Linked DNA regions of Homo sapiens. The protein of the gene in region 1 purifies or fractionates together with the protein of each later gene. This does not show direct contact. Each region holds a gene or a part of one and is shown on either strand. Other genes may lie near its edges.

Region 1 (8,288 bases):
TTTTTTTTTTGAGACGGAGTCTCACTCTGTTGCCCAGTCTGGAGTGCAGTGGCATGATCTGGGCTCACTGCAGCCTCCGCCTCTTGGGTTCAAGCATTATTTATCTGAATTTTTTTTTTTTTAGATGGAGTCTTGTTCTGTTGCCCAGGCTGGAGTGCAGTGGTGCAATCTTGTCTCAGCACAACCTCCACCTCCTGGGTTCAAGCAATTCTCCCTGCCTCAGCCTCCTGAGTAGCTGGGACTACAGGCGCGCACCACCATGCCTGGCTAATTTTTGTATTTTTAGTAGAGATGGGGTTTCACTCTGTTGGCCAGGCTGGTCTCAAACTCCTGACCTCATGATCTGCCCACCTTGGCCTCCCAAAGTGCTGGGATTACAGGTGTGAGCCACTGTGCCGGGCCTATTTATCTAAATTTTAATAACTGCATATACTTCCAACAGGTAGATAGGAAATAATTTACTTATTTCTTGTTGAAAATTTAGATTTTTTTCCATTGTTTCATTGTAAGTAATACTGTGATGAACATGTGTGGAACTATGATTCTTTCTAGGGATAGCCAAGGAAAAGCATCTCAGTAGCAATCTGGAAACACCTGCAAAACCTTTTTTTTTTTTTTTTTTTTTTTTGAGATGGAGTCTTGCTTTGTCACCCAGGTTGGAGTATAGTGGTATAGCGGCGCCATCTTGGCTCACTGCAACCTCCGCCTCCTGGGTTCAAGCAATTCTCCTGCCTCAGCCTCCCCAGTAGCTGGGACTACAGGCTCACACACCACCATGCCCAGCTAATTTTTGTATTTTTAGTAGAGACTGGGTTTCAACATTTTGGCCAGGCTGGTCTTGAACTCCTGACCTCAAGTGATCCACCTGTCTGCCTCCCAAAGTGCTGGGATTATATGCATGAGCCACTGCACCTGGCCTCAAGCTCCATTCTTTTTTTTTTTTTTTTTTTTGAGATAGAGTTTCACTCTTATTGTCCAGGCTGGAGTGCAGTGCCGCAATCTCAGCTCACTGCAACCTCTGCCTCCCAGGTTCAAGTGAGTCTCCTGCCTCAGCCTCCCAAGTAGCTGGGATTACAGGCGCCTGCTGCCATGCCCAGCTAATTTTGTGTATTCTCAGTAGAGTTGGGGTTTCACCACGTTGGCCAGGCTGGTCTCGAGCTCCTGACCTCAGGTGATCCACCTGCCTTAGCCTCCCAAAGTGCTGGGTTTACATGTGTGAGCCACTGTGTGACCTCAAGCCCCATTCTTAACTTTGCTGTTAGTTAAGATAGCAAAAAAATTTTTTTAAAAAAGATTCTCTGGGGAGAACTACTTTAGGGTCTATGGCGGTGGTTCTTTTTTGTAATACAATAAATCTGAATGAATTTTGTTTTGAAAGCTGTTATCTGTAAATTGTTATTTAAAATTCATTATTTTAACTATAATTGTCTTGACTACACTTTTATTAATACCTTAAGATTTTAATATGTTAAATATCTTTTCCCCTTTTTAGGTATGGCTGATGGCAAGCATTGTACTTTTCCACATCTGCCTGGCAAAACCTTTGTCTATAATGCTTCTGAAGATAGACTGGAATTGTGTGTGGATGCTGCAGGACATTTCCCCATTGGTCCTGATGTTGAAGATTTAGTTAAAGAGGCTGTAAGTCAGGTTCGAGCAGAGGCTACTACAAGAAGTAGGGAATCAAGTCCCTCACATGGGCTATTAAAACTAGGTAGTGGTGGAGTAGTGAAAAAGAAATCTGAGCAACTTCATAACGTAACTGCCTTTCAGGGAAAAGGGCATTCTTTAGGAACTGCATCTGGTAACCCACACCTTGATCCAAGAGCTAGGGAAACTTCAGTTGTAAGAAAGCATAATACAGGGACAGACTTTAGTAATAGTTCCACTAAAACAGAGCCTTCTGTATTCACAGCTTCTTCTAGTAATAGTGAGCTTATTCGAATAGCTCCTGGAGTAGTAACAATGAGAGACGGCAGGCAGCTTGATCCTGATTTGGTTGAGGCCCAGCGAAAAAAATTGCAGGAAATGGTTTCTTCTATTCAGGCTTCAATGGACAGGCACCTTCGGGATCAAAGTACAGAGCAGTCACCATCTGATCTTCCTCAAAGGAAAACAGAAGTTGTGAGTTCTTCTGCAAAGTCTGGGAGTCTTCAGACTGGTTTGCCTGAATCTTTTCCTTTAACTGGTGGTACTGAAAATTTGAATACAGAAACAACTGATGGCTGTGTAGCAGATGCACTGGGAGCAGCCTTTGCCACAAGGTCAAAAGCACAAAGGGGAAATTCCGTGGAGGAGCTTGAAGAGATGGATAGTCAAGATGCTGAGATGACTAACACAACTGAGCCAATGGATCACTCTTGATTTAATTAGAGGCTAATAAAGGCAGAATGTTTATTGTGAATATGTAATATTTGTTGGCTGGGCCACGTAACTTGATTAGTCATTAAAAATCTTGTACGTATATAATTCAAAGATTATATCTTGTTATTCAGTGCATGATAGCAAGTGTGTGATTGGCCATAGCTTTTAATATACTGCTGCCCAGGCTGGCTCTGAATTTCTATAAATTAGCTGTTAGATCTGCTGAGATGACTTTCTTCCATATATGTGGTTCATTGGAAGTTCTTTGTAATTTTAATTCCATGAAAGTCTTAATGTTTCCAACATGAAAATTCTCTTACTTAAATACGTTTGATTTCTGAAAAGCCTACAAATGGAGGGGAAATGAGATTGTGCTAATGTTGATGTCATCAAGGTAACCATCTCATATACTAGTGTCAAAAGGTTTATGTAAACTTGAATTTTATCTGAACTAAATTGTATCTTAAAATTCATACAATTATTTATTAGACAGTGGAATGCAAATGTTTCTATGAACGTAAACACATTCATAGAGATTTCTTGGCGAAAATATCTTGAGAATAGAATGTAACGATATAACATTTTGCTGATTTGTGCAAGATTGGGGAAAAATTTCTTCTAGATTGATGAGGTCAATGTGATTCAGTTGTGTTGCTGTCTGAGCCACAGCCAATTGTGTGTGCTCTATTAATATGTTACCATTATTTTTGATTCCTGGCTTGGTCAAGAACAACCTGATTTTTTTTTTTTTAATCTTGCAGAAAAGTTGATTGCAAAGTGTGGTAGAAAAAGAAATAATGGTAGCAGTAGAGAATTTATAAATAAGAGTTTATCTTTATGAATGAGTTAATTGTTCTACAATTTTGATCAGTGGTATTTAAGCCTGTATATGCTAAGTGTATTTATGCCCCTTTGAGCCAAAATTTTTTTTTTTTTTTCAGAATCCATAAGAGTTTATTTGTTGGCTTCACTTGGGTTTAGATGCAAATTTTACTGCATCACACCCTGATCAGCTGGGTATTTGCTTAGTGTATTCATCAAATCTTCAGTGCCAGTTTCCTTGAGAAGCAGCTTTCATGCTTATTCCTTAAAAACAACAGAAGAGTGTTTATCCTGAGATTGGTATTGCACTATTTTATTTTATTCTGCAAATCTGTATCCTGAAGTGTACATTTCAACCCATATTCTTCTCTGTTCACTGAAATTAAGTTGAATTTGAATGGCTGAAAGACAAAATATATGTTAATACAATCTCTTACCTAGAGCATTCAAAGCCTGGCTGTCTCTGTTTGCACATGTAACAGATGCAGAACTGTGTTTGTAATTCTAAGAAAATGTATGTCAGAAAGTATTTTATCAGATGTTTAAAAATCTCTGCCTGTTGATTCATAAGGGATATAGACAGTACTTTAACTTGTGTTTCCAGATAAGGCAGATTTTGGTCATCTTTCTGTGAAAGTATCTCTAACTGAATCCACTTCTTAAACAAACTACTCTATTTTAAATAAGGAAAGAATGGAGAATCTAGACATTTTACAGGTGTATCTGAGCAAAATATATATTTGGGTTAGTTTTTATCACATTATCACGTTTGTCTTTATATTTTATCTTCATCCTAAATTTTCTCCCTATCAAAACAGCAGGAAATTTTTAAACTTTTATATTGTACACTATTTTTGCATAAAATAAGAGCTGTAGCTACCAAATACTATTTACTACTTAGTAAAGGTGGCTTCTGTGTATTAAACTACGAATTACAAATATCACTTCACTAACCACTATAATTATTTTTGGCTTTTTCAGCCACTGGAACTTTTTTTGGGGGGATTTAAATACAGGAAAACTGTTTAAGCAAAAAATGCACTGCTTTCATGTAAAATGATATAATCTTCTTTAACAAATATTTTCTTCATTGATAACTGACAGATATCTCATAGCATTAACATAAAATACCAGAAACAAACTTTATCTCCCTATTCTTACATTTAGTGCAAATTGGAATGCGTATGTGAATGTTAGAAGATGGACTTAATCTCTGACAACTTTATTAATTTCTCTAGCTACAGCAATGCTATTTAAAAGCCAGTTAGGTATGAATAGTACAGTAATAGTTTGGGTTCTCCCTTGATAAATGAATAAAAGGCTCAATTCTGATAAGTGATCAAATTTCTTGAAATTCTTTCAAATCAGCTGAAAATTTGGTTGGGGTGAATTGATGGTTTTTGAGAAGTAGGCCAGGTATCCTCACAAAGAAGTTTTAGAATAGGGTTTCTTTTAAGTTTTTAAATATCATCCTTTGTCTTTCCATATGGTTTTCATAACCAAATACATGACTATAGCATGGTTATTTTTCTAGTACTGCCATTTGTGATATAGCCACATCTTGGCGTGCAAGCTAGACATCTCAGGTAAATTTGTTTTTTTTTTTTTTTTTAGCCCTAGAGGTAACATTATAACTAAAATGCATTCCTGCAATTCTGTTTGCAGTGCTTCACTAAACATTGAAATAAAGTTGTAAATTTTTTCTTCAGTAATCCATTTTATAGTTAATCATACCAAATTTAAGTTGATGACCTAAAGTCCAGGTAGTGTTGAAGATAGTATGTATCTAGAATACTGGTAATGAGAAATTGTTGTAAATTGAAGAAAACAAGATGCTGCCATATATTAAGATAGAATATAATTAACTCCATGAGAATGGTTACTCAGGAACTAGTTAAAGAGCAAACCCATTTCTCCCGCTTCACTCTGTTTCAGATATTTTTATTGGAAAATGTTAGGGTAGAGGCCTGAGAAAGTTAGCAAATGCTATTGACTGATACTGGCTCTGTGTCTTCCAGTGATTTTTAGTTTGGTTTTTACAGTCAAGCCTACTGCTTGCAATTAAGATATCAATCTGAAATGCATCTGTAATTCCTGGCCACAGGTCCTTATTGCCATTATTTTTAAGTATCTTCATTGGAGATGAACACTGACTTTTGCATATGGTCTCTTACCTCAGGGAAGATCACTTGCTAGCAACTCATACTACTAATGACAGGTTTTTGAGAATTGTACTGACATCACATGTTAGCTACTAAATGCAAAATGTATAAAAGTATTGTTTTATGTAGTTACCTACCAATACTATCTGCTACTGAATAACTCTCTAAATATGTAGACCTCACTAATAACTAACCTTTAGGTAAAAAATTTACTTCTGTCATTAATTACACTTCAACTGGTCAATATAGTGGCAGCATAAAGTGTTTATTTCAGAATATCAATACAGTTTTGTCTTCATTTTTCAACAGTAATTTCAATTGGTTCATACTTAAAATACTACACAGATTTTGAGTTTTATGGTTCTCAAAGCAAGGTTTCCATCTTAAGATTTTTATAAACACAAAGCCTTTGCAAAATTGGATTAAATTCCACCTATCTTAATGTGAATTAAAAACCACCATTTATAATAATAATAGCGCCATATTCTAAGTTGAGTAAATGCATCCTACCATTCAAGGTTATCATATAATTTAACAAAATTGTACAACCTTAAGGCTCTTCACAGTATAAATTAATTTTTCAAACCAGAGCTGTTCACATGAAAATATTCCTTAGTAGAATGTATATTTAAGAAATAAAACAACAAAGGGGAACTATATCACCCATGTAAGTTATAGAGTTAATTACAAGTTCTACCATTCTTGATAATTCTTTGAGATGCTAAGTGTTTCAGTTCATATTTAATGATACTTAAATCGTGGGAATTTTAATGTTTGTTCCAAAATAGCAGAAATTGTAAAAATTATGAATTATTGGAGAAAATGCCATTACTTGTATATCTGACATTTAATTTTTTAATTATGGAGACTACATGCTTTTGTAGTATAATATTAATGATTATTCTCTTGTAAAAGAAAAGGAAAAATTAGTAAAGAAAAAAGTTTTAGTTGATGTTACCTGCTTGTGAGTATCAATTACTTAGTTTTTAAATTTTTAAGGTATTGCCTACTTTTCTTTAGAATGCAGAAATCTCGTCCTGAGCCCTTATTATGCCTGTGGTAGAGCAATGCAAGACTGAAAAGGTTGCCAGTATTTTCAGGCTTATTTGACTAAGAATTAGTGCCAAGAACTGGAAAGTCTACTTTTTGGAGGGAAATGATACTTAGAATTTGTAAACATAAGCAGTAATAGTGTAAATATTTAGAAAAATAGCAAGTGCTTTAACTGCTCAATAAAATAGTATAGATGTTATTTCACCCTTAAGGCACTGGCTGTTGCCCATTATTTTCCGATTTCGTGATTACTGTATATATTACATTTGAGTAATGAATAATTGGTAATAGTGTATTATAGTGTTCTACAGCACACCTTACTGTACAGTATTTGAAGTTTTCTTTTATATCAATAATAAAACTATAAGTTAATACTGATTTTCCCCTGAAATTCTCCACATTAGCTTTTAAAGGTAATTTTATGTTCTTTAGTTTCCTGGAATTATAATGCATGAACATATAGTTCAGTTTTATAAAGAAATTCTTAAATAATAAAGTTTTCTTGTTGAACTTAAGCGGGTTATCGTACAGGAATAGTGATTTTTCCCCTTAATGTAGATTTCATTGCTAGATGAAATGGACCCAGTGAAAAAAGAGTGCGCAATTTAAAAAAAAACCAAAACGGTCTCACTCTGCTGCCCATGCTGGATTGCCGTGGCATGATCAGGGCTCACTGCAGCCTCAACCTCCTGGGCTCAAGTGATCCTCCCACCTCAGCCTCCTGAATAGCTGGGACTACAGGCATGTGCCACCACACCTGGCTAATTTTTGTATTTTTTGTAGAGATAGGGTTTTGCCATGTTGCCCAGGCCGGTCTTGAACCCCTGAGCTCAAGTGATCTGCCCTCCTCTGCCTCTTTAAGTGCTGGGATTACAGGCGTGAGCCACCGCACCCTGCCAGCAAAATTTCTTTAGACATATTACATAATTGGGCCATAATGCTTACTGAATATTTAAAAATGAAGGCAAATTCTAACAGAGAACTTGATTTTGTGGTGGTTTAAAAAAATACTGGTTAGTGATAAGGAAATGAAAGGAAATACAGATAATAGTACTAAATAACGTTTGTGTAGCTTAGCAGTCAACACGTTTACTTCCAAGTTTTATTGTATATGCTTAATATACATTTTATTAGATCATTTAACTCAATAATTTAGAGTATAGCCTTAGACACCAGACTGCCTAGGTCTGACTCCTGGTACGCTGCTTTCTGTGACCTCTCTGTGCATTCCTCTCTGCGAGGATGATGATCACATCTGCTCCCAGGGTGGCTGTCTTAAATGAGTTAACACGTATCTGATGATTAGAAGAGTGCCTGACACATAGTAAACACTCAAATATTTGCTATGTTATATGTTAATGTAATGTGGTAGAGTTCAGTTGCCATTAAGTGGGATAAATCCTCACAGGGCACACATTATTTAAATAATTTGTTACATTAAAACTTATTTTACTTGTACATAATTGACTAAAAAATGGGGGGTTGTACATTCAAACATTTATGACCATGTGCAACACTGAGAATCTCAAACCGACAGTGTGCTCTGTGACCCAAGGCAAGTCTTGGAGCCTTTCAAGGCCTCAATTTCTTCTGTAACCTTGTGGTTTCACAATTGTCAACCTTTTGTTCTGCCGACCATTGTCGTCATAGTCTTACTTGCAGAGGGCATAGTGCTGATGGGACAAGTGACATGGGTATGAGCCCCATGTAAACTAAAACATAATTACCTTTCCTTTAGGTGTTGGCTACAGTTATCCCAAACTTGGACTTGAGGTCTTGTATATGCATGCCATTGGTCACATACCATCAGAATAGAATTCTCAAAAACTCTTTAGTAAATAAGATAAACATCCTACTTATAACAGCTCATTATGGATTTTATTTTTA
Region 2 (7,235 bases), on another chromosome or scaffold:
TTAATAGAGACGGGGTTTTACCATGTTGGCTAGGCTGGTCTGGAATTCCTGATCTTGTGATCAGCCCACCTCGGCCTCACAAACTGCTGGGATTACAGGCATGAGCCACTGCGCCTGGCTTTTTTTTTTTTCACTTTTTAAACTATTCACAGGTGTACTACCACTACTGATCAGCATTCGTTCTTGCTCCTTTTCCAATGGGCAACCTGGTAGTCCCCCGTTCCAGTGAGATCACCAAATTGATGCCAAACTTAGTGCAGACACCTGACCGACTGGCAGAGCACACTATACCCCAGAACTTCTGGGCTCAAGCGAGCCTCCTGCCTCAGTCTCCTGAATAGCTGGGACAACAGGCATGCACCACTAGGACCAGTAGTGGTTATATGTGAAAGGCAGAATAATAGGTGATTTAAGGATCATTTTAGCATATCTGCATATTATAGTTTTCTATAATGAATATAAATTATCTGTGCAAAAAATACATTAAAACAAATGACAAAGCCAAATACTGGTCTACTGAATAAGCCATTTCCATCTGAAGGTTTAGTGCAATGAGCAATTTTTTCATAAAATGGTTTGTACTTAGGAAAAGAACAAAGGAGTAAACCCTACTAAAGAGTCTTCATGCTAGTTCAGCTGATAACACAAAGAATAAATGAAAAATTAAACATATCATTGAGTTAGTATTCAAAAATAGCACATCTTTACATTTCTGAGTATTAAATGAAAGTAATGTTGGTTAAAGCAAAAGCACCTAATAAATGTTTGTTGATTATCAAACTGAATGACTTTGCCAAATAAAATGACAAGTGTATTTGCATATAACTATTTTATAACAAGGGTAAATGATTTCACAGATCCTTTTAATGAACAGTATTTCATTAACAGTTCTTCAACTGTCAGCAAAAGATTGCTCTCAAAATACTTTAAGGCACTGAAATAGATGCACACATATTATCAACATGCTGAAATGTCATGAAAAATTATACCGAGAGAAGTATATAAAATAAGATTATTTTTTAAACTGAAAAAAATGCATAGTAATTAACCAATAAACCACAATCTGTAACATTAGATATGTATTTCTTTTTTTCTTTTTTTTGAGACGGAGTCTCGCTCTGTTGCCCAGGCTGGAGTGCAGTGGCACGATCTCGGCTCACTGCAACCTCTGCCTCCGGGGCTCAGGTGATTCTCCTGCCTCAGCCTCCTGAGTAGCTGGGACTACAGGCGCACACCACTACACCCAGCTAATTTTTGTATTTTTAGTATAGACGGGGTTTCCCCATGTTGACCAGGATGGTCTCGATCTCTTGACCTCGTGATCCATCCACCTCAGCCTCCCAAAGTGCTGGGATTGCAGGCATGAGTCACCGTGCCTGGCCTAGATATGTATTTCTATATATCAGCCCTAACAATTATTTTCAAGAAACTGAAGACAGTTTTGAAACAATTGCTTAGGTCAAATTGTATGCCCCATCTAAGGTGATTATTTTCAAGTTTTCCTTCCCTTAGCAAATTGTTTGTTTTCCAAAGTCAACCTCTTTTGATAATTATACACATTTAACTAACAATTTTACAACTTTTAAATTCTCAGTTAAAAAGCTTTACTGGATGATTCTCATTGTAGAAAATCTTTGAGGATATTATTCGCATTAATGAACGTTTCACAGTTAGAATAATGAAGGTTATTGATGACAACAGGTCTTTCTCCATAGGACCCTTACTGGGATGTATTCTACAGGTACATACAAAAGAACCTCCCATGTATCTTCTGGTTAAATAATTATAAACCGGAAAATCTACCAAAGAGGCTTTTCTATAGGTACACAGGAAACATTCTCAATGAGAGACCCCTACATGGAGAATCATATGTTGACTATAATTATGCAAATAAAAATGCTACATGATAGGCCTATATGAAACATTTTCTTAGATTCCTGAACATGTATTAACTGTCATCCTGTTATTTTCTATATCAGAAAGATAAGCTCATTGATTTTATCATTGCCTCTTTTTTTTTTTTTTTTTTTTGGTAAGAACATTATTTTTGTTTCACTACAGAGAGGCTCTAACACTGCTGTGTAAACATTACCAACAATAATTATTTATTTTCTATTATGTACCTGTTCATTTCTAAGAGTAATGGACAAAAGAAAAGGCTCTCCTTTGTCCTCCCTCTCTTCCTAATTAAAAGAGCCTTCTGCCCCATGGAAGGCTGGGAGCTAGGAAAAGCAGCATTCTCACAATAGACTGCAATCAGAAGATAGATTTTATGTCAGGTCATCTAGTTACATAGATATTTCCCTGTTGTTATTCCTGAGTCCTTAGTAAAAACCTTAATTAAATGTTCCAGCCTTGTCTCGGCTGTGCTATAGGAGGTAAAGCACAAGTTTATGTCATGATTGGTTCAGTGACAAAAGGGAACAGACTCTTTCCAAGAGCAAACTGGGTGACAAGGATAAACTTAGTGGTCTAGCAGATGTGTTTCAGTGGAGTCTCCCACCGTCCATGGTGAAAGCATGCAGGTTTTATTTTCTCAGGGTAAAAGCTTAGGACAGAATTTCCTGAAGAAAGGTACTTCCACCACATACTTAAGAATCACGTGAGATTAAAAATGCAGAGATCTGAGACCCATCACAGATACAGTGAATCAGAATCTTTGTGGTAGGTGGCAGGAATGGCATTTTTGAAAAGCTGCCCCAAATGATTCTGAAACTAAGGCTTCAGAATCATTGTGAACCATCACTTTATATAGATTGGTTCTCAAAGTGTGCCTGAGGGATCCCTGGAGATTCCCAAGACCCATTCAGGGCACTGTGAAGTCAAAACGTTTTTCATAATCATACTAAGGCATTATTTGCTTCTTTTCATTCTTTCACCAGTATACAGAGGTGTTTTCCAGAGTCTACATGATATGTGACTGCACAACAGACTGAATGTAGAAGACATGAGAACCCATCTATCTTCTTTATGACAGAAAGTAATTCCCCCCAAAAAACCGGCCACTTTTCTCACTAAATCGTTTCATGTTTTATAAGTTATTATTGGCTGGGCACAGTGGCTCACGCCTATAATCCTAGCACTTTGGGAGGCCAAGGCGGGCGGATCACCTGAGGTTACGAGTTAGAGGCCAGCCAGGCCAACATGGCGAAACCCCGTCTCTACTAAAAATACAAAAATTAGCCAGGCGTGGTAGTGGGCGCCTATAATCCCAGCTACTCGGGAGGCTGTGGCAGAAGAATCGCTTGAACCCGGGGGGACAAGTTGCAGTGAGCCAAGATCGCGCCATTGCACTCTAGTCTGGGGGAAAGAGCAAAACTCTATCTCAAAAAAAAAAAAGTTATTATTATTACGGCAGGGTCTTACTCTGTTGCCTAAGCTAGAGTGCAGTGGCGCAATCTCGGCTCACTGCAACCTCTGCCTCCTGAGTTCAAGCAATTCTCCTCCCTCAGCCTCCCTAGTAGCTGAGATTACAGGCATGTGCCACCACACCAGGCTAATTTTTGTATTTTTAGTACAGACATGGTTTCACCACATTGACCAGGCTGGTCTCGAACTCCTGACCTCAGGTGATCTGCCCGCTTTAGTGTCCCAAAGTGCTGGGATTACAGGTGTGAGCTACTGCACTAATTTTTGTAATTTTTATAGATAGAGTTTTGCCTTGTTGCCCAGGCTGGTCTCAAACTCCTGGGCTCAAGTGATCCACCTGTCTTGGCCTCCCAAAGTGCTAGGATTACAGGCGTGAGACACCATGTCCAGCCAGAAGTTATTTTTAAATGAATAATTTTTTTTTTTTGAGAAAGAGTCTCGCTCCGTCACCAGGCTGGAGTGCAGGGGCGCAATCTCGGCTCACTGAAACCTCCACCTCCCGGGTTCAAGCCATTCTCCTCCCTCAGCCTCCCACGTAGCTGGGACTACAGGCGCATGCCACCACACCCAGCTAATTTTTTTTGTATTTTTAGTAGAGACGGGGATTCACCATGTTGGACAGGATGGTCTCAATCACTTGACCTTGTGATCCGCCTGCCTCAGCCTCCCAAAGTGCTGGGATTACAGGCGTAAGCCACCGTGCCTGGCCCATAAATAAATATTTTAAAAATTTAATATTTAATATAATAATATATATAGCTCACATAAACAAATGGTCTTGAGATAAAAATGTTTGAGAGTTGCTGTTTCATAGCAGGCATCTCGCACCCTATGAACATTACTGCTGCTATGGACCACTTAGTTCCTTGGCACACTCAATGCATGCTTCATTTTAAATCTGATTCAATAGATCATTTGCAAAAAAAAATGTTAAACTTATTTTCAGGTATGGGGATTTAATCTGACAGTGAAAAATTGAGGTCTAACTGGATTTAGTTAAAGTCTGAGATATAAAGCCTGTTTTTCTTCGTGATATCAAAATGAAATAATCTTTAAATGTATTCACAAGTTGACTCTGATGTATGAAACAGAAAACCAGCTGGGCACGGTGGTTCACACTTGTAATCCCAGCACTTCAGGAGGCCTAGGCAGGCAGATCCCCTGAGGTCGGGAGTTCGAGACCAGCCTGACCAACATGGTGAAATCCCGTGTCTACTAAAAATGCAAAATTAGCCAAGCATGGTGGCGCATGCCTGTAATCCCAGCTACTTGGGAGGCTGAGCAGGAGAATCTCTTGAACCCGGGAGGTGGAGGTTGTGGTGAGCTGAGATTGCGCCACTGCACTCCAGCCTGGGCAACAAGAGCGAAACTCCATCTCAAACAAACGAAAAAGAAACAGAAAACCATACTTTATATGATGCATTTAAAAAATACTAGTAATGTGACACACACCGGCATTATATTCTAAGTGAGTGGTGGCAAATGAATGGCTAATCCCAAATGTTAGCCAAAAACAAATCCATAATTTTTGAAAGAAAATAAAATGGAAAGGGAATAGGCTTTTTAGAAAGATAATTTTCTTTTATTACATTTTTATAAAGTGTAGAAATGTGAGTAGGCAGATTAATCTTGATACTATACTGAGCTACACAATTTTATTCTTTTATTTTTTAAATTAAAAAAATATATAGACAGGGGTCTCACTCTGTTGATCATTCTGGTTTTAAACTCCTGGCTTCAAGTGATCCTCCCATCTCAGCCTCCCAAAGTGCTGGGATTACAGGCATGAGCCATTGCACCCGGCCACAATTATTTATATTTATTTTACTTTATTTTATTTATTTTTGAGAGGGGGTCTTGCTCTGTCGCCAAGCTGGAGTACAGTTGCTCAATCTCAGCTCACTGCAACCTACACTTGCCAGGTTCAAGAGATTCTCCTGCCTCAGCCTCCCGAGTAGCTGGGACTACAGTTGCGCACCGCCACGCCCAGCTAATTTTTGTATTTTTACTAGAGATGGGGTTTCACCATGTTTGCCAGGATGGTCTCAATCTGTTGACCTCGTGATCTGCCTGTCTCGGCCTCCCGAAGTTCTGGGATTACAGGCATGAACCACTGTACCCGGTCGTATTAGCTATTTAAAAACTCAGACAGCTAACATTTAAATAAATCCCTGCTGTCTGGGAATGATGTCTGAATGAATATTGTGAATACATATGCTAATTTATACCATATTAAGATTCTAAACAATACAGCTATTTAATATATCTTGATAACTGGTATTTGAAAATAAGTCTATTTTTCTGGGTAGTCTTTTGGAGAAAGTGCACTGAATATAGTTTCCAGTCATATGCTACTTTCTTAACTTGTACTTATCTAAACATCTTCTCATCAGGAGAGAGTTCAATAGTACTCGAACCAAAAGTCTAGTGAGTCTGACTTCTCCAATCCCCAATTTTGGTTTGCATGTCCACTTACAACCATCATTTCTCTGCAAATTTTCCACTTAGTCTATCAAAAATCAGTGCTCTGAAAGTTCTCTAAAAGATGCAGTTTTTTGGAGTCTCTGAATGATGACAGCATTCTGTAAATCTGCTTCTTCCAGTGTGAGTGTCTCATCTAGCAACCTGAGGACAGGAAGAGCTGTTGCCAGGGAAAACGGAGGACTTCTTTGAGATCCTTGGTATTTTTCAATGAAGTCTTTGATATGGCTTACTCTGTAAAACAGCAAAAACTATTAATATAATTTTAGGAAAATTTGAATTACCTAATTTATAGTAACAACAACTGGTAAAAGTATCTGGATATGTTATTATTAGAGATAGCGTCTTGCTTTGTCACCCAGGATGCAGTGCAGTGGTGCCATCATAATAACTCCTGGGCTCAACTGATCCTCCTGCCTCAGCCTCCCAAAGTGCTGAGATCACAGGCATGAGCCACAACACCCAGACTCTGGATATGTTAATATATAGAATAACTGAATTTATGATATAACTGATTATTTGGGCTATCTTTTAAAGTTTGACTCCCAGAAATTTGATGACAATACTACTACTACTGTTAATTATCTTAGGTAAGATAATTAGTACTATGAATTACTACTGTTAATTATCTTAGGTAAGACAAAGGAATTATGGCTATGTTTTACAGAGGCTGTCACAATTGTATCATGATCGTCATGTAGCCATGGATTATAGAATGCATCCTCATTTCACAGATGCTAAAATGTGAAAAAATGTGCAACTCAGAATTAATGAAATATGCCTATCACTAAAGAAAGAATTCTCTCATTCAATCAATTCACTAAAATTCACTACGTGCCACTTTATTAAACCTGTAAGGGCTACCAAAAAAGTCTAAGACCCAGTCCTGTGTATTCATTTGGGTACCAAAAATTGGATAACTAAAGGTTAAAGCTTATGTCAAAGAACATAAATATAAAAAGCAAGAAAACAAAGGTTAAAAGAACTGGGGAAAGATTGCTGGAGGTGGAAGGATTGGAGTGTGGACTTAAAAGACAGGTCCAGCTGCTCGGGAGGCTGAGGAGGGAGACGAAGGTTGATCGCGGGAGACGAAGGTTGCAGTGAGCTGAGATCATGTCACCGTACCCTAACCTGGATGAAAGGGTGAGACCCTGTCTCAAAAAAAAAGATTCTTTTCTTTTTTTTGAGATGGAGTCTAGCTCTGTTGCCTGGGCTGGAATGCAGCGGCGTGATCTTGGCTCACTGCAACCTCCACCTCCCGGGTTCAAGCAATTCTCCCTGCCTCAGCCTCCCTAGTAGCTGGGATTATAGGCGCCTGCCACCACATCCGGCTAGTTTTTGTATTTCTTAGTAGAGATGGGGTTTTGCCATGTTGGCCAAGCTTG
Region 3 (8,288 bases), on another chromosome or scaffold:
CAGTCAGCCAAGATCGCGCCACTGCACTCCAGCCTGGGCAACAGAGCGAGACTCCATCTCAAGAAAAAAAAAAAAGAAAAGAATGAAAATAGAACAGAAAAATACTTAAGAGTGGGGAAAACCCCAAAATTTAATGAAAAACATCAAATAGCAACTCCAGGAAGTTCAGCAAACTCTCTCAAGTTAAGATACAAAGAACACCACTGCAAGGCACACCAGAGTCACCCTACTGAAAGCCAGAGGTCAACGAAGACGAGAAGACCAAGAAGACGGTGGAACGACAGCTTCAAATGCTCAACAGGACCAGGCACCGCGGCTCCCGCCTGGAATCCCAGCATCCAGGAGACAGAGTGGGGAGGATCACTTGAGGAAATCAAGACCAGCCTAGACAACATGGTGAAACCCCATCTCTACCAAAAAATTAAGAAATTAGCTAGGAAGCTCACGTGGGAGGATCGTTTGAGCCCGGGAAGTCAAGGCTGCAGTGAGCTGTGACTTTGCCAGTGCACTCCAACCTAGGCAAAAATAATAATAATAATAATTTTAAAATGGACTGGGTGAGGGTGGATCATACCTGTAATCCCAGCACTTTGGGAGGCTGAGGCGGGCGGATCACCTGAGATCAGGAATTCGAGACCAGACTGGCCAACATAGTGAAACCTCGTCTCTACTAAAAATACAAAAATCAGCTGGGCATGGTGGTGCGAGCCTGTAGTCCCAGCTACTCGGGAGGCTGAGGCAACAGAATCACTTGAACCCGGGAGGCGGAGGTTGCAGTGAGGCAAGATTGTGCCGCTGCACTCCAGCTTGGGCGACACAATGAGACTTCGTCTCAAAAAAAAAAAAGAAAAAGGGCCAGGTGTGGTGGCTCACTCTTGTAATCCCGGCACATTGGGAGGCCGAGGCAGGCGGATCATGAGGTCAGGAGATCGAGACCATCCTCACTAACACAGTGAAACCCCATCTCTACTAAAAACACAAAAAACATTAGCCGGGCATGGTGGCGGGTGCCTGTAGTCCCAGCTACTCGGGAGGCTGAGGCAGGGAAATGGCATGAACCTGGGAGGCAGAGCTTGCAGTGAGCCGAGATCGCGCCACTGCATTCCAGCCTGGGCAACAGAAAGACTCCGTCTCAAAAAAAAAAAAAAATTGATGCATGGTGGGGAACAAAAATGAACTGTCAACTCAGAAATCTGTTTTGAGGCCAGGTGCAGTGGCTCACGCCTGTAACCCCAGCACTTTGGGAGGCCAAGGCGGGTGGATCACCTGAGGTCAGGAGTTCGAGACCAGCCTGACCAACATGGTGAAACTCCATCTCTATTAAAAAGACAAACTTAGCCGGACTTGGTGGCGTATGCCTGTAATCCCAGCTACTCGGAAGGCTGAGGCAGAATTGCTTGAACCCGGGAGGCTGAGGCAGGAGAATTGCTTGAACACAGGAGGCAGAGGCTGCAATGAGCCAAGATCATGCCATCACACTCCAGCCTGGGCAACAAGAGCGAAACTCTGTCTCAAAAAACAAAAACAAAAATTAGCCAGGTATTGTGGTGCACACCTGTAATCCCAGCTACTTGGGAGGCTGAGGCAGGAGAACTGCTGGAACCCAGGAGGCGGAGGTTGCACTGAGCCGAGATCACGCCACCACATTCCAGCCTGGGCGACAGAAAAAGACTCCATCTCAAAAAAAGAAATTTGTATTGAATGAAAATATCCTTGGGAGGCCAAGGCGGGCAGATCACGAGGTCAGGAGATGAAGACCATCCTGGCTAACATGGTGAAATCCCGTCTCTACTAAAAATACAAAAAATTAGCCAGGCATGGTGGTGGGCGCCTGTAGTCCAGCTACTCGGGAGGCTGAGGCAGGAGAGTGGCGTGAACCCGGGAGGCGGAGCTTGCAGTGAGCCAAGATCATGCCACTGCATTCCAGCCTTGGAGACAGAGCGAGACTCCCTCTCATAAAAAAAAAAAGAAAAAAAAAAGAAAAAGAAAATATATCCTTCATGGCTGGGCACGGTGGCTCACACTGAAGCGGGTGGATCACGAGGTCGGGAGTTCAAGACCAGCATGGTGAAGATAGTGAAACCCCGTCTCTACTAAAAATACAAAAAATTAGTCAGGTATGGTGGCGGGTGCCTGTAATCCTAGCTACTCGAGAGGCTTAGGCAGAGGATTGCTTGAACCCAGGAGGCAGAGGTTGCAGTGAGCCGAGATCATGCCACTGCACTCCAGCCTGGGCAACAGAGTGAGATGCCATCTCAAAAAAAAAGAAAATAACCCTCATATAAACACAGGGCAAAACGAAAACATTTTCAGGTCAAAAAAACCCAAAGGTCTGTGACCAACAAACCTACCTACAACAAAGGCTAATGGATGTTTTTCAGTCTGAAGAGAAACAACACCAGACAGAAATAGTCTGGGGGAATCCATGGGAAAAGTAAATAAGGAAGAAACTGTGAAGATAAGCTAAGAAGTACATAATATGCAACTATCACAGTAAATGAAATATTTTGTGATTGGTTAAAAAAAGAAAAACTGTCATGGGAATCCTGGACACAATGCAGGTCAGGAGACCAGGGAGGAGCCAGGGATGATTCTTTGAGTCAACTGTAGTCATATCTACAATTCATACTTTTTTTTTTTTTTGAGACAGTCTCACTCTGTCGCCCAGGCTGGAGTGCAGTGGCGCGATCTCAGCTCACTGCAAGCTCCGCCTCCTGGGTTCACATCATTCTCCTGCCTCAGCCTCACCAGCAGCTGGGACTACAGGTGCCCGCCACCACACCCGGCTAATTTTTTGTATTTTTACTAGAGATAGGGTTTCACCATGTTAGCCAGGATGGTCTCAATCTCCTGACCTTGTGATCCGCCCGCCTCGGCCTCCCAAAGTGCTGCGATTACAGGCGTCAGCCACTGCGCCTGGCCACTCTTATGAAATACTTTTTTTTTTTTTTTTTTGAGATGGAGTCTCACTCTGTTGCCCAGGTTGGAGTGCAGTGGCACCACCTCGACTCACTGTAAACTCTGCCTTCTGAGTCAAGCAATTCTCTTGCCTCAGCTTCCCAAGTAGCTGGGATTACAGGCACCTACCACCACGCCCGACTAATTTTTGTATTTTTAGTAGACGGGGTTTCACCATCTTGGCCAGGCTGGTCTTGAACTCCTCACTTCGTGATCCACCCGCCTTGGTCTCCCGAAGTGCTGGGATTACAGGTGTGAGCCACCACGCCCAGCCGTGAAATATTTTTACACTTACCTTTGGGCTCTTGGTCCTATAATTTTGAGCAGTGATCAGCTGTGACAAACATCTCATCCTATAGCAATCCAACCCAACTGTGATAGAGAAAGGCAATGCAAGAGGCAATTTGGGAATAGGGAAAATAAGAAAACGAGGAAAAGAGAAAAGGTATCGATGGCAGTAAGAGTAGAGGATGAAAAATATCCTGAGGGTCAATACCCAGGCCACAGATACCTTTTTCAAAAATGTTGCTGCTGTTTCTCTCTTTGTTGCTGTGATCCGCTTCACTCCATCCGGGGACTGGACACGAATTATCTGTTGCAAACAAAACATGATGGTTACTGCACAGCCTAGTGAGGTCCTGATCTAATACTACGGCTTCCATCTGTGGTCTTTTAGCATCTGGGTCACTGAAAATTAAAGCCAAACCTCACTCTTCACCTTTCAATACCCAGCTCAATCCTTCTAGAATATGATGCCGAGGGGTGAGATTCATCAACATATGGGGAGATATTTTAAGAGTACTGTCCTCTCAACTCTTAGTTTCACTCAGAAAACAACTTTAATTCCTAATCACTATTTATAGAGTATATGTAAAACACTTTTTGTCTCTTCAGACTTAAAACAGAGAAAAACCCACCATGAACCATGAATGAACTGTGTTCTTTAAAAAAGATGTTACTTTGGGGAAAAAAAAAAAAAAAAGATGTTACTTTGTTCCAGGATCTATATACAAACATTAGACAGTCTTCAAGAGTCCTACAATTTAAAAGAATCACAGGAAATTTTCTAATTGTTACTTTTTTTTTGCTTTTTTGAGACAGGGTCTTGCTGTCACCCAGGCTGGAGTGCAGTGGCAAAATCACAGCTTACTGCAGCCTTGACATCCAAGGTTCAAGTGATCCTCTGACCTCAGCCTCCCGAGAGCTGGAACCACAGGCTTGCACCACCACACCAGGTTAATTTTTTTTTTTGTAGTGACGGAGTGTCATATTTCCCAGGCTGATCTCGAGCTCCGGGGCTCAAGTGATCCTGCCACTGTGCTGGGATTACAGGTGTGAGCCACAACGCCAGCTATTACTTACTTTCCCTAAAAAACGTTTAAAAATGGCCAGACACAGTGGCTCACGTCTGTAATTGTAGCACTTTGGGAGGCCAAGGCGGTGGATCACTTGAGCTCAGAAGTTCAAGACCAGTGGGCAACATGGGGAAACCCCATCTCTACTAAAAATACAAGTTAGCCAGGCATGGTGGCGTACGCCTATGGTCTCAGCTACTTGGGGAGCTGAGGCACGAGGATCACTTAAACCAGGGAGGTCGAGGCTACAGTGAGCCAAGATGGTGCCACTGCACTCCAGCATTGGTGACAAAGTGAGACCCTGTCTCAAAAAAAGAGATTAGGCTGGGCACAGTGGCTCCTGCCTGTAATCCCAGCACTTTGGGAGGCCAATGCGGGCAGATCACCTGAGGTCAGGAGTTCGAGACCAGCCTGGCCAACATGGTGAAACCCCGTCTCTACTAAAAATACAAAAATTAGCTGGGCGTGGTGGCGGGCACCTGTAATCCCAGCTACCCGGGAGGCTGAGGCAGGAGAATCGCTTGAACCCAGGAGGCAGAGGTTGCAGTGAGCCAAGATCGTGCCATTGCGTGACGAAGAGCAAGACTTCGTCTCAAAAAAAAAGTAAAAATTTAAACTTAAAAAAGAAATTAAAATTAAAAGCAATAAAGGTCTTTAATGGTAAAATTTAGTAGGGTTTTGAAAAAATATTTTCAGCTGGGCACAGTGGCTCACACCTATAATCTGTGCACTTCAGGAGACCAAGGCAGGAAGATCTCTTTAGCCTAGGAATTCGAGATCAGCCTGGCCAACACAGCGAGACCCCATCCTAATTTAATAACGTGTGTGTGCATATATGCATATTAAAGTGTACATATATATATATATATTTTTTTTTTTTTTTTTTTTTTTTTTCCCCCACGGCAAGCCTAAAAAGGTTGGCAGATCTGGAAGACTACTGGACAAAGGGCATTACTTTCTAAGACAACTTGATGTTTATGCTGATGAAAGCCATCGTGAAGGTGAGTTATCATGCCTGGCCAACAGCACAGGCCCCTGCTTTAGACAAGGAGGATGACATGGCATGCTCTGCAGCAAACAAAGACCTGCTCCAACCATCCGCGGGACGGGAAGGAAGGCAGACAGGAACATGCGCATAAGTGTCCTAGCTTCTCCTCTCAGCAAAGACTGATGGTGCATTCTATAGCTTCTTTCTCTCTCATTTCCTGCATTACCATCTCTTGTATTTAGCTCATTTTTTTTTTCCCCGAGATGAAGTTTCAATCTTGTGGCCCAGGCTGGAGTACAATGGCGCAATCTTGGCTCACTGCAACCTCTGCCTCTTGAGTTCAAGTGATTCTCCTGCCTCAGCCTCCTGAGTAGCTGGAATCACAGGCGCCCACCACCATACCCAGCTAATTTTCTTTTTTTTGAGACAGTCTTTTTCCGTTGCCCAGGGTGGAGTGCAGTGGCGCAATCTCGGCTCACTGCAACCTCCACTCACTGCAACCTCCGCCTCCCAGGTTCAGGCGATTCTCCTGTCTCAGCCTCCTGAGCAGCTGGGATTACAGGCGTGCACCACCAAGCCCAGCTAATTTTTGTATTTTTAGTAGAGACGGGGTTTCAACATGTTAGTCAATCTGGTCTTAAACGCCTACCTCAGGTGATCCACCTGCCTCAGCCTCCTAAAGTGCTGGGATTATAGGCATGAGCCACCAACCCTGGCCTAGCTGATTTTTTATAGTGAAACATTTCAATTCCCTTATTTCCTTTTTTATTTCTTTTTTTTTTTTCAGCTCTTGTTGCCCAGGCTGGAGTGCAATGGCGTGATCTCGGCTCACTGCAACCTCTGCCTCCCCGGTTCAAGTGATTCTCCTGTCTCAGCCTCCTGAGTATCTGGGATTACAAGTGCCTGCCACCACGCCTGGCTAATTTTTAGTATTTTTAGTAGAGATGGGATTTCACCACGTTGGCCAGGCTGGTCTCGAACTCCTGACCTCAAGTTATCCACCCACCTGGGCCTCCCAAAGTGCTGGGATTACAGGTGTGCACCACCACACCCGGCCTCCCTTATTTCCTTTTTCATAAATTCTATAACTATTTTCTGTGAGGTTACCACGAGTGTTACATTAAACATCCTCTTCAACCATTATGCAGATGAAAACTGTCACAAGCCATTGTCTAAAAAAGATTTCCACTGATACAGGACAAAACACCATAAAGGCTCAGTCTACTGGGATTTGTCCGCTTTTAGTAAAGTAACTAAGCCTAATCTAGATTTTCCTAAAATAGGATAACCCTGTCCTGCATTTTCCCATAACTTTCACTTGGCAGAAAAGGCTCCACCCAATATGTTCTCAACTTTTAAGTCAGGAGATTGAGACCATCCTGGCTAACACGGTGAAACCCCATCTCTACTAAAAATACAAAACATTAGCCAGGCGTGGTGGAGGGCGCCTGTAGTCCCAGCTACTTGGGAGGCTGAGGTAGGAGAATGGCGTGAACCCAGGAGGCAGAGCTTGTGGTGAGCAGATCGCGCCACTGCACTCCAGCCTGGGTGACAGAGCAAGACTCCGTCTCAAAAAAAAAAAAAAAAAGAAAAGAAATACAATTCTTTATACTTCTAACGTCTAGTATACTTCATTCTAGATTCAATACCCCAGAAAAACGTTTTCACAATATATAGCATTAGGTAAATACTTCCACTTATTTGTTTCTAAAATCTGTCTGCCAACACTTAGCTATCTTAAAAAGGAAAGCTCTGTTCTAATGAAGGGGAACATGTGAATGTTCCTTCAAACGATGACTCTGGAACAAGAGCATGTTACCGCCATTCTTTACAGAGCTAAATGGTTCAGGCTGCAGAATTCTAAGGTGAAGAAGTCATCCTACTTGATCCTCTACCACAGAAGATGGGAGTCCAGGTTTCCAAGGCCAACTCCAGTATTTAACAAGAGACAAACATAATTTGTACGATGGAAAGTTCTGGCCTAGCCTCTGACACAGACTACAAAATGAAATACACAGGAAGAGACAGACCTGACAACATGAACACACAGCCTCTTGGTAACTTAAGTTTCCCTATTTATAAGAAAATAAGACTAGAACGCTTCTTGGGGAAGTTGAAGAACTGGTGAGATACAGTTAAATCCACAGAAACTCTTTTCTCCCCCCAAGACAGAGTCTTGCTCTGTCACCCAGAGTGGGAGTGCGATGGCGCGACCTCGGTTCACTGCAACCTTTGCCTGCCGAGTTCAAGCAATTCTCTTGCCTCAAGCCTCCCAAGTAGCTGGGATTATAGGCGCCCGCCACCGCGCCCAGCTAATTTTTTTTTTTTTTTTAAGAGTCTCACTCTGTCACCCAGGCTGGAGTGCAGTGGTGCGATCTCGGCTCACTGCAATCTCCGCCTCCCGGGTTCTAACTTTTCTGCCTCAGCCTCCTGAGTGGCTGGGACTACAGGTGCACGCCACCACGCCCGGTTAATTTTTTGTATTTTTTTTTTTTAGTAGACGTGGGGTTTCACCGTGTTGCCCAGGCTGGTCTCAAACTCCTGAGCTCAGGCAATCCACCTGCCTCGGCCTTCCAAAGTGCTAGGATTACAAACGTGAGCCACCACGCCCTAATTTTTGTATTTTTAGTAAAGACGTGGTTTCACCATGTCGGCCAGGCTGGTCTCAACTCCTGACCTCATTATTCACCTGCCTCGGCCTCTCAAAGTGCTGGGATTACAGGTGTGAGCCACCATGCCCAGCCCAGAAACTTTTCAAAAGATCTCTTTCTTAAATTCAAAATAACTTTTTAAATCAATTTCAAAAGAAGAGTGTTTTAATTCCTCACAATCTGAGACATTCAACGAGATCCAATGCTGTCAATGAGAGCCTAGCCTTATACACTAGTGGGAAAAAAAAAATGGCCTTGTCTGAAACACTTTTCACTTGTCAATGGTTATTTTAACTCAGTTAAAAGTACAAAGGTAGTTTGAAAGAAGGTTTCAGT
Region 4 (8,398 bases), on another chromosome or scaffold:
ACCCAGACATTCCTTGGCTTGTGACAGCATCACTCCAATCTCTGCCCCCATCTTCACATGGCCTTCTTCCCTCTGTGACTCTTTTCCTTTTCTTTATAAGGACACCAATCAATCAGATGAGGGCCCACCCTAATCCAGAAGGACCTCATCTTAACTGGATTATGGCTGTAACAACCCTCTTTCCAAATAAGGCCACATTCACAGGTGCCAGGGGTTAGGGCTTCAACATATCTGTTTGGGGGATGCAATTCAACCCCTTACATACTGTACCAAACTGGAGGCACCTAGAAGTGTTGACTCCAATTGGTAGCGCAGTCCTTGAGGAAAATGACGACCCAAGCAAATGTTTCCTTCAATCTCTGCTCTACCCCGTTTCAGGTGCTATAGAAAAATTACGGGAGGGCATTGTTTTAGAGTGAGCTCCTGCACTAGGTCCCAACAGACCAAACTAAAGTGGAGTCACTCATGCTAAGTGCCATTTAACCAAGCTGAAACTTTAAGAAAGCTGGTGGTCCCCAAATAGACCAGTTTTTCTTGAAAACAAGAGTCACAGCAACCCATCAGAAAGAGTTCAGTCTGCCTGAGTCAGAGTAATAAGGAAGTCCCATTTGCTTTAACCATGACGAGAAAAGTAGTCTGAATTAAGCTGACACTAACCAATCAACCTTTAAAATAATACTGTTTCCTTGTTCCCACCTTACAAAACCACTGTTCTGCCATTCCCCAGTGGGAACTCTAATTCTATTTTATAGAATGGAGGCTACTGGATTCATGAATCATGAATAAAAGCCAATTTGATCTGTAAATAATTTTGTCTTTTGACACCAGGAGAACACCACCTCCCCCCTCACCAGCTGTGTTTATGACAATGATGCCAGAGGTAGCCTCTTCACATCCCTTTATGATTCATTCAGTATGGCCAATGAAAATCTTTTACTAAAATTGTGCACTTGCTTCACCCTGGGCTCACACATCTTACTCCTCTGCTGGAGGGCTAGAACACCATCCCCTCAATCCTGGTACTTTTTTCTTCCTTACCACTGAGTCAGGGAGCTGAGAGGTTTGGAAGTCAGTGGGAATCCACACAGAGAAAGAACTGGATTTAGATTGGGCTGTTTTCCCTCTGAGCTTTGTCCTGTTGGCTTCCCTATCTCCTCAACACCACCTGCCTCCCGCACCCACCGACACACACATCTCCAGAATGTAACTCTCCTGGCTGACAGGGAAGCACATTATTTAGGGCCGTATTATCCCCTCTGCTCAAAAACAAATGAGCTCACCGAAGTGTACACTTGCATTTATCTGAGACCATGTTTATAAAATTCATGAATATGGAAATGGGCAGCCATCTCCCAGAATCCCTCACACCAAGAGAACTGGCACTGTCTGCTGTAGGTGAAAACCTCTTCCCTTGAAGGCTCAACAACTTCTACCCAGAAGAAGAAAAGAACAGCATATTCTTTCTCATACACACACACAAACACACACACACACACACACGCACACAGTATATACCACCAGTCTGTGGTCTTGGAAGCAAAGTTTAATAATTGAATAGCTCAAGCACTAAACTCTTACATATTATTAAGATACTATCCTAATATGTCTCATTTGTCAAAGATGGAAAAGTTTTGATATGACATAAGGGTTTCAATCCCAATAGGAATATTAATGGTAACAATAAAAATAACATAGCAACACGGTTTCTGTTGAATGCCTGCCACATGCCAGCAACTGCTTTGATAATTAAAGAATTATATCTTATGTTGATTATAATCCTTATAATGGCTTCCTGGGTAAGAAAGGTTTATTACTGTTTTACATTTGAGGAGGAGACTAGGGTTCAGAGAGGGTGCAGAAGTGAGTTACACTTTTGCCAACCAGGCCAGAAGATGAAAGCCGCTGGATTGGGAAATGCTTTTGTATCAAAAGCACAAAATGAAGTGGCTAGTGTTACTTGTTGGAAAAAAATTAACTTTGGCAAGCATAAATATAATTCAGTATTTGAGCAATACTTTTAGGAGGGTAACAGAGTGGTTTATGTGAATTCTCCAAAATGCCATCATGAAAATTTTGATGATGAAAATCACCTAAAATTGCTAATTACCTGTCTTAGCCTGTCTAGGGCTACAAAGTACCATATGCTGAGTGGCTCATAAACAATAGAAATTTATTTCTCACAGTGGAGGCTGGAAGTCAGAGTGCCAGAATGGTCGAGTTCTGGTGAGGGCTCTTCCAGGTTGCTGTCAACTCTTTGCATCCTTAGGTGGTGGCAAGAGGGCTAGAAAGTTCTTTGGAGTCTCTTTTATTGTATTTTATTTTTTGGAGACAGTCTCACTCCGTCCCCCAGGCTGGAGTGCAGTGGCGCGATCTCAGTTCACTGCAACCTCCACCTCCTGGGTTCAAGCAATTCTCAGGCCTCAGCCTCCTAAGTAGCTGGGATTACAGGTGCCCACCACAACACCTGGCTAATTTTTGTATTTTTAGTAGAGACAGGGTTTTGCCATGTTGGCCAGGCTGGTCTCGAACTCCTGACCCCAGGCGATCCACCTGCCTCGGCCTCCCAAAGTGCTGGGATTACAGGCATGAGACACTGCACCCAGCCTCTGGAGTCTCTTTTATAAGGATACTTACTATTCTCATCCATGAAGTCTCCACTCTCATGACCTAATCACCTCACAAAGGCCCCGCCCCTTAAAACCATCACATTGGGCTTAGGATTTCAACATACAAATTTTGGGGGGACATAAACTTTCCATCCCTAACATTACCCAAATAGTATCTATATAGTCATTTCTAAATATACACGTATTTAGAAATTTCTAAATAGCCAGTAAACATACAACTGACTTGGCCTTGATATAACTGTTTTCATTTTCTTTTATTTTCATTCTACATGACATATTTTGGGTAATTATAAAATAATTAAAATTAGTTGATAAAGTATGGAATTAGAATAAAATAATTTTCTATTACTATCTAAGCCATGAAATGAATTAGGAGATGCTGTTTTCAGTGAAACGTCTTCTAGTTTTTAAAGTGCATTGTCCAATTCCTTTTTATTTTGTGAAGATTTTAAAAACTTAAAAAAAGTCTTCAAATTGTTTGTGCCTTGCATTTCTTTAAATCTTATGTTTAAACATCATGTGCTGCTAGTTGCTAGTCATTTTCTCTATCCCCTGCCCCAGACCCTCTCTTTCTCAGGAAAGGATATCCAGGGATCCGGGTCCCAGTTAGTCAAGGAGATATAAGAGGAAGGCTATGAGGCTTTCTGGGAAACATTTTCTTTTTCCAAGAGAGAAGTGTTCAGAGGGAAAAGGTCCTTTCTCAGTTTGGCTCCCTCTTTGTGTTTTAGATCTGGTCATGTGAGGCTGCCTGGCTTGGATTGTGAGGGCATCTCTCGACAATGAAGTGACAAGCCTGGGGAGGAAAATCCACAGGCGAGAAGGTGGCAGAATGGAGAGATGGTCCTTCATGACTTCTTTGAGTCACCAGGTCCAGATTTCCCGCCAACCTCCAGTCTTCTTGTTATGTGATCTGATATCATTATTTACTGCAGAGGCCACTGAGTGGATGCTCTTACTTGTGTCTGAAAATCCAATTCACTAAATTAATCAAAATACGGCACTCTTCTTTTGAAACCTTGCTCCAGAACAAAGTGGAAGGTAATGATGGGGTGCTTTTCAAAGTTCCAGGGAGGTGTCCCTACACAGCAGACAGCTGTCCAAAGGAATGTAGATGTTGGCTGCGGGGAGATCTGAGTTGCCAGACTCAGTCAGAACAGGTGTCCTCTCCCTTATTTTATCTTAAACATGCATGTCATTTTTGCATGCTACTCTATGCGGTTCTTTCAGCCAGGGAACATTGCTGAGCACCCGCTCACGTGCTGTATGGAGCGCAGACTGCAGGGTGCGAGGGGCGGAGGTGATGTGCTAGGCCTGAATTCAAGAGGGGGCGCAGCCACAGGCCCCGCGATGCCGGGGTGGCCTCTTGTAACGACGTTTTAACCGCTGACCTAAGTGGATCCGCTCCTCTCCCGCCGCCCGCTCCCTGCCTGCAGCACAGGATGGCGGCTGGCTTTCCCGAGTGGGCGCAGGTGAGCCACGCTTGCTCTCCCGGGTGGGCGCAGGTGAGCCATTGTTTGCTCTCCCGGGTGGGCGCAGGAGAGCCACGCTTTGCTCTCCCAGGTGAGCCGCCGCTCGCTGTCCCGGTGAGGGGAAGTGAGCCACGCTCTATGGGAATCCTTCGAATCTTCATTCAATTTCCATCGCCTCCTTGTATTTATTTGGGAGTACTTTTAAAAATGAAGCCTATGCACAATGATGTAATAAGCGTTTATAGAACACCACTGGTCGGAGCTAGGGCCTAGGTGGCGGTGCCCGGGCCCAGGTGCCGCGCCCACGCCCCGCGCGCCGAACGCACGCACGCACGCACTCACGCACTCACGCACGCACGTACGGCGCGAGTCCGAGGGCGACAGCAGCGCGCAGGCGCACGTCAGTCCCCGCGCTTTTCGGAGGCTGCCAGCGTCCCACACCAGCCGCAGGTAGGATGCGGTGACGGGAGGCGGGGCAGGGGCGCTGCTGACCCCTGTGGAGCATCAGGGTTGGGGCGTAGGGGAGAGGCGGGCGTGTGCCTCTGGAATGCTGGGGGTCGCGGGGCGGTGACTTCGCGGGAGGCCGTGGGAGGCGGGAGCCAGGCAGTGGCTGTGCCCTTTTGCTTCTGTCTTAGCGGGAGGGTGGCTGACCCGCTAGCCCAGAACCAGACTCATCCAGGATTAGGAAGCTGGGGCCCGGCGTGGACGGCAGGCTCGGGGCCAGGTCTGCGGGCGGCTTCCTTTGGCAGAGCCTGTCCGGGGGCGGGGCCGCTTACCGCAGGCATTTACTGGGCCCAGCGGGGCTCTGGGCGCCCACAGCGGGGGTCAGTCAGTTCCCCTGTGACCCAGGCAAGCTCTTAATCTCTGTGATGAGAAAGAAGGGCTCATACCTTTCAGGGGTCATCGTGAGGAATCAGAAGAAGCAGTATTTTATAGAGTATTTTCTAAGTGCTGAGTCCTCTGTCTAGTGCTTTGCAGAATTAAAATACCTTGTCAGCTCAGTGATGTTGCTGCGCTTCTTTTATAGGTGAAAACCGGCAGAAAGACATTAAGAGATTTTCCTGCAGTCACTGCTGGCAGATGATAGAGCCAGGATTTGAAAGCAGGCAGCCTGGCTCCAGACCCTGTGCTCTTAACTCCCGTTTTGCATCAAGAACAGAATCCTATGAAAGGCTTGCACAGTGCTTGGTACTGAGTAGGCACTCCGTCAGTATTTTAGTAGCTATTATTCCAAAGGACACTGTATTCTAGGTACTAAGACAATGTGAATGGAATGGAAAACAATTCCTCCCTGCAGAAGCCAACTGTCTAGGAAGACAGATAATGACATTATTAAAATAATCAGAACATTGGCAAAATAAAGAAGATTGAAATGCAGTTCATATGACAGTGCTAATTAATCATACTTTTTAGATCTAGGAAAGGCCATAAAGGTTAAATTGACTTGGAAATGGTAAACAAGACAATGGTTGTGTCACTGATCGGTGATGGCCAGTTTTTGGTTATCCTTATTTGCCATTTAAATGATTGAATTGAAAGGAAGAAGTAAGACTTGGAAGATGAATATTGAAGGAAAGGTGAAGATGGAAAAGAGAAGGGGGTTTATTCTGAGAACAGTGACTAGAACTCTGAGGTATGGTAGAAATTTCAGGATAACAGATGATAAAGGGGAATGAAGCCATGGAGAGGAAGAGAATGATAATATTAATTGTGAAAGTTTGTGTCAAGTGTTTTCTGAGTCACCTTTCTTTCAGTTTCTCATTTCTAGTATTGTATAAATGAGTTTAACATCAAAATGGTATAGTGAAAAAAAGGATGAACTGCTTGACAGAAGAGGTCAGATCTAGTTTTGACTCTAGCTTATTTAGCTTTACAGCTTTAAATAAATTACAGTGTCTTTAAAGCTCTGGATCTTAAGTTTTCTAATTGTTTTTTAAACAAAGATTTGTGAACACCTACTTACAATGTGACAAATGTCTTTGTAAGGCATTATGGGAGATAAAAGCTGCATTAAACCTGGCTGTTGTACTTACAAGTAATTTGGAAGGCAAAATTTCAAATACTTGAACCTAAAGTAGGGTTTCTTGGTTTTCATTTAATTGAAATACTGTTAGGAAACAAAAATTTTTCATAAATTTTTCTTGTGGATATGTAAGTAAATTCTATATATCTAGCAATATGATACATCTATAGTTCTGTTTAAAGGTAACAATGTGAGGAAGCTTATGCGAATAACTTGACAGAAGAAATCTAAAGTAAAAGCATTTTCCTAGTAGGCTAGCTTGTTCTCTTATTTCATTTATTGTAACAGTTTCACTTTTTAATAATTATGTGAAATTAGGAAACAGATATTCTAGGGCATTCTGTTTAGGGTGATGAACTTATTCATGAATGTTATTAAAACCATTTAAATATGCCATAGTTTAAATTTGTGATCCATGCTGTTCAATCTGTGACCTAGGATAGCAGCATCAAGGAGCATTGTGTACATGCAGAAGTGCACAGTACCTGGAGTGAAACTGCTTGTGTTCGATTTCTGATACCATTCATAACTGGCTGTGTGATCTCAAGTAAGTTCTTTAAGTCTCTCAGCCTCGGTTTGTACATTTGTGTGATAAGGATAATGATAGTTTTCAGATTATTTTCATAGTCATTGCTTGATTTGATTCTTCCAATGGTTCCTCTCACTTTGCAGATAAGAAAACTGAAGAACCAGCTGGGCGCGGTAGCTCACGCCTGTAATCCCAGCACTTTGGGAGGCTGAGGCGGGTGGATTACCTGAGGTCAGGAGTTCAAGACCAGCCTGACTAACATGGCGAAACCCCATCTCTACTAAAAATATAAAAATTATCCAGGGGTGGTGGCAGGTGCCTGTAATCCCAGCTACTTGGGAAGCTGGGGCAGGAGAAGCACTTGAACCCGCGAGGTGGAGGTTGCAGTGAGCTGAGAGCGCCACTGCCCTCCAGCAGCCTGGGTGACAGAGCGAGACACTGTCTCAAAAAAAAATAATAATAAAATAAAAATAAACCATCAGTGATAGTAAAAAGCTCACTTAAGCTCATTCACCTAGTTTTATAGATCAGACTTAAACCTCTTGTTTATTTTGTTTTGCTTTATGTATCTATAGTTCCATTGTTTTTAAAATTTAAAATTAATTTTAAACCTTATGAATGCTTTCCCTACAGATAAAATTATGTAACTAGAACAATTTAACTCATATAAATTATTATTTAATCAAGTCCTTAATTTTGAAGACTTCATATTGATATGTCTTGAATACTTGAAATCTATAGTTAACTAGATATTTCTCTTATAACCTGTCCTTATAAATCTACATTATAAATAAAAAGTCCAGTGTCCCTTCCTTCAGATTAGCAGAAGTTTCAAAATTACATTTAAAGTATTTTCTTTGTTTTCCTTCATACTGATTTTCATTTTTATTGTTTGTTATAGAACCTCTAAAATGCAGACCTCCAGCTCTAGATCTGTGCACCTGAGTGAATGGCAGAAGAATTACTTCGCAATTACATCTGGCATATGTACCGGACCGAAGGCAGATGCATACCGTGCACAGATATTACGCATTCAGTATGCATGGGCAAACTCTGAGATTTCCCAGGTCTGTGCTACCAAACTGTTCAAAAAATATGCAGAGAAATATTCTGCAATTATTGATTCTGACAATGTTGAATCTGGGTTGAATAATTATGCAGAAAACATTTTAACTTTGGCAGGATCTCAACAAACAGATAGTGACAAGTGGCAGTCTGGATTGTCAATAAATAATGTTTTCAAAATGAGTAGTGTACAGAAGATGATGCAAGCTGGCAAAAAATTCAAAGACTCTCTGTTGGAACCTGCTCTTGCATCAGTGGTAATCCATAAGGAGGCCACTGTCTTTGATCTTCCTAAATTTAGTGTTTGTGGTAGTTCTCAAGAGAGTGACTCATTACCTAACTCAGCTCATGATCGAGACCGGACCCAAGACTTCCCGGAGAGCAATCGTTTGAAACTCCTTCAGAATGCCCAGCCACCTATGGTGACTAACACTGCTAGGACTTGTCCTACATTCTCAGCACCTGTAGGTGAGTCAGCTACTGCAAAATTCCATGTCACACCATTGTTTGGAAATGTCAAAAAGGAAAATCACAGCTCTGCAAAAGAAAACATAGGACTTAATGTGTTCTTATCTAACCAGTCTTGTTTTCCTGCTGCCTGTGAAAATCCACAGAGGAAGTCTTTTTATGGTTCTGGCACCATTGATGCACTTTCCAATCCAATACTGAATAAGGCTTGTAGTAA

The links.
Region 2: the proteins of VCPIP1 (region 1) and UBXN2A purify together in Homo sapiens (affinity purification with mass spectrometry; 2 studies listed by BioGRID and IntAct, with this or other methods). This does not show direct contact.
Region 3: the proteins of VCPIP1 (region 1) and NPLOC4 purify together in Homo sapiens (affinity purification with mass spectrometry; 2 studies listed by BioGRID and IntAct, with this or other methods). This does not show direct contact.
Region 4: the proteins of VCPIP1 (region 1) and FIGNL1 purify together in Homo sapiens (affinity purification with mass spectrometry; 2 studies listed by BioGRID and IntAct, with this or other methods). This does not show direct contact.

The regions. Positions count from the first base shown.
Region 1 is NC_000008.11:66,628,577-66,636,864, reverse strand, and holds part of VCPIP1 (deubiquitinating protein VCPIP1), read left to right. Parts: intron 1-1,492; coding exon 1,493-2,364; 3' UTR 2,365-8,288. UniProt on the Homo sapiens protein: Deubiquitinating enzyme involved in DNA repair and reassembly of the Golgi apparatus and the endoplasmic reticulum following mitosis. Necessary for VCP-mediated reassembly of Golgi stacks after mitosis.
Region 2 is NC_000002.12:23,998,521-24,005,755, reverse strand, and holds the end of UBXN2A (UBX domain-containing protein 2A), read right to left. Parts: intron 6,102-7,235; coding exon of another isoform or gene 6,085-6,101; coding exon 5,889-6,084; 3' UTR 847-5,888; downstream 1-846. UniProt on the Homo sapiens protein: Acts to repress the ubiquitination and subsequent endoplasmic reticulum-associated degradation of CHRNA3 by the STUB1-VCP-UBXN2A complex in cortical neurons.
Region 3 is NC_000017.11:81,626,256-81,634,543, forward strand, and holds part of NPLOC4 (nuclear protein localization protein 4 homolog), read right to left. Parts: intron 3,551-8,288; coding exon 3,470-3,550; intron 1-3,469. UniProt on the Homo sapiens protein: The ternary complex containing UFD1, VCP and NPLOC4 binds ubiquitinated proteins and is necessary for the export of misfolded proteins from the ER to the cytoplasm, where they are degraded by the proteasome.
Region 4 is NC_000007.14:50,446,449-50,454,846, reverse strand, and holds the start of FIGNL1 (fidgetin-like protein 1), read left to right. Parts: upstream 1-4,496; 5' UTR 4,497-4,546; intron 4,547-5,123; 5' UTR 5,124-5,729; exon of another isoform or gene 5,730-6,557; 5' UTR 6,558-6,666; intron 6,667-6,791; exon of another isoform or gene 6,792-6,879; intron 6,880-7,549; 5' UTR 7,550-7,559; coding exon 7,560-8,398. UniProt on the Homo sapiens protein: Involved in DNA double-strand break (DBS) repair via homologous recombination (HR). Recruited at DSB sites independently of BRCA2, RAD51 and RAD51 paralogs in a H2AX-dependent manner. May regulate osteoblast proliferation and differentiation.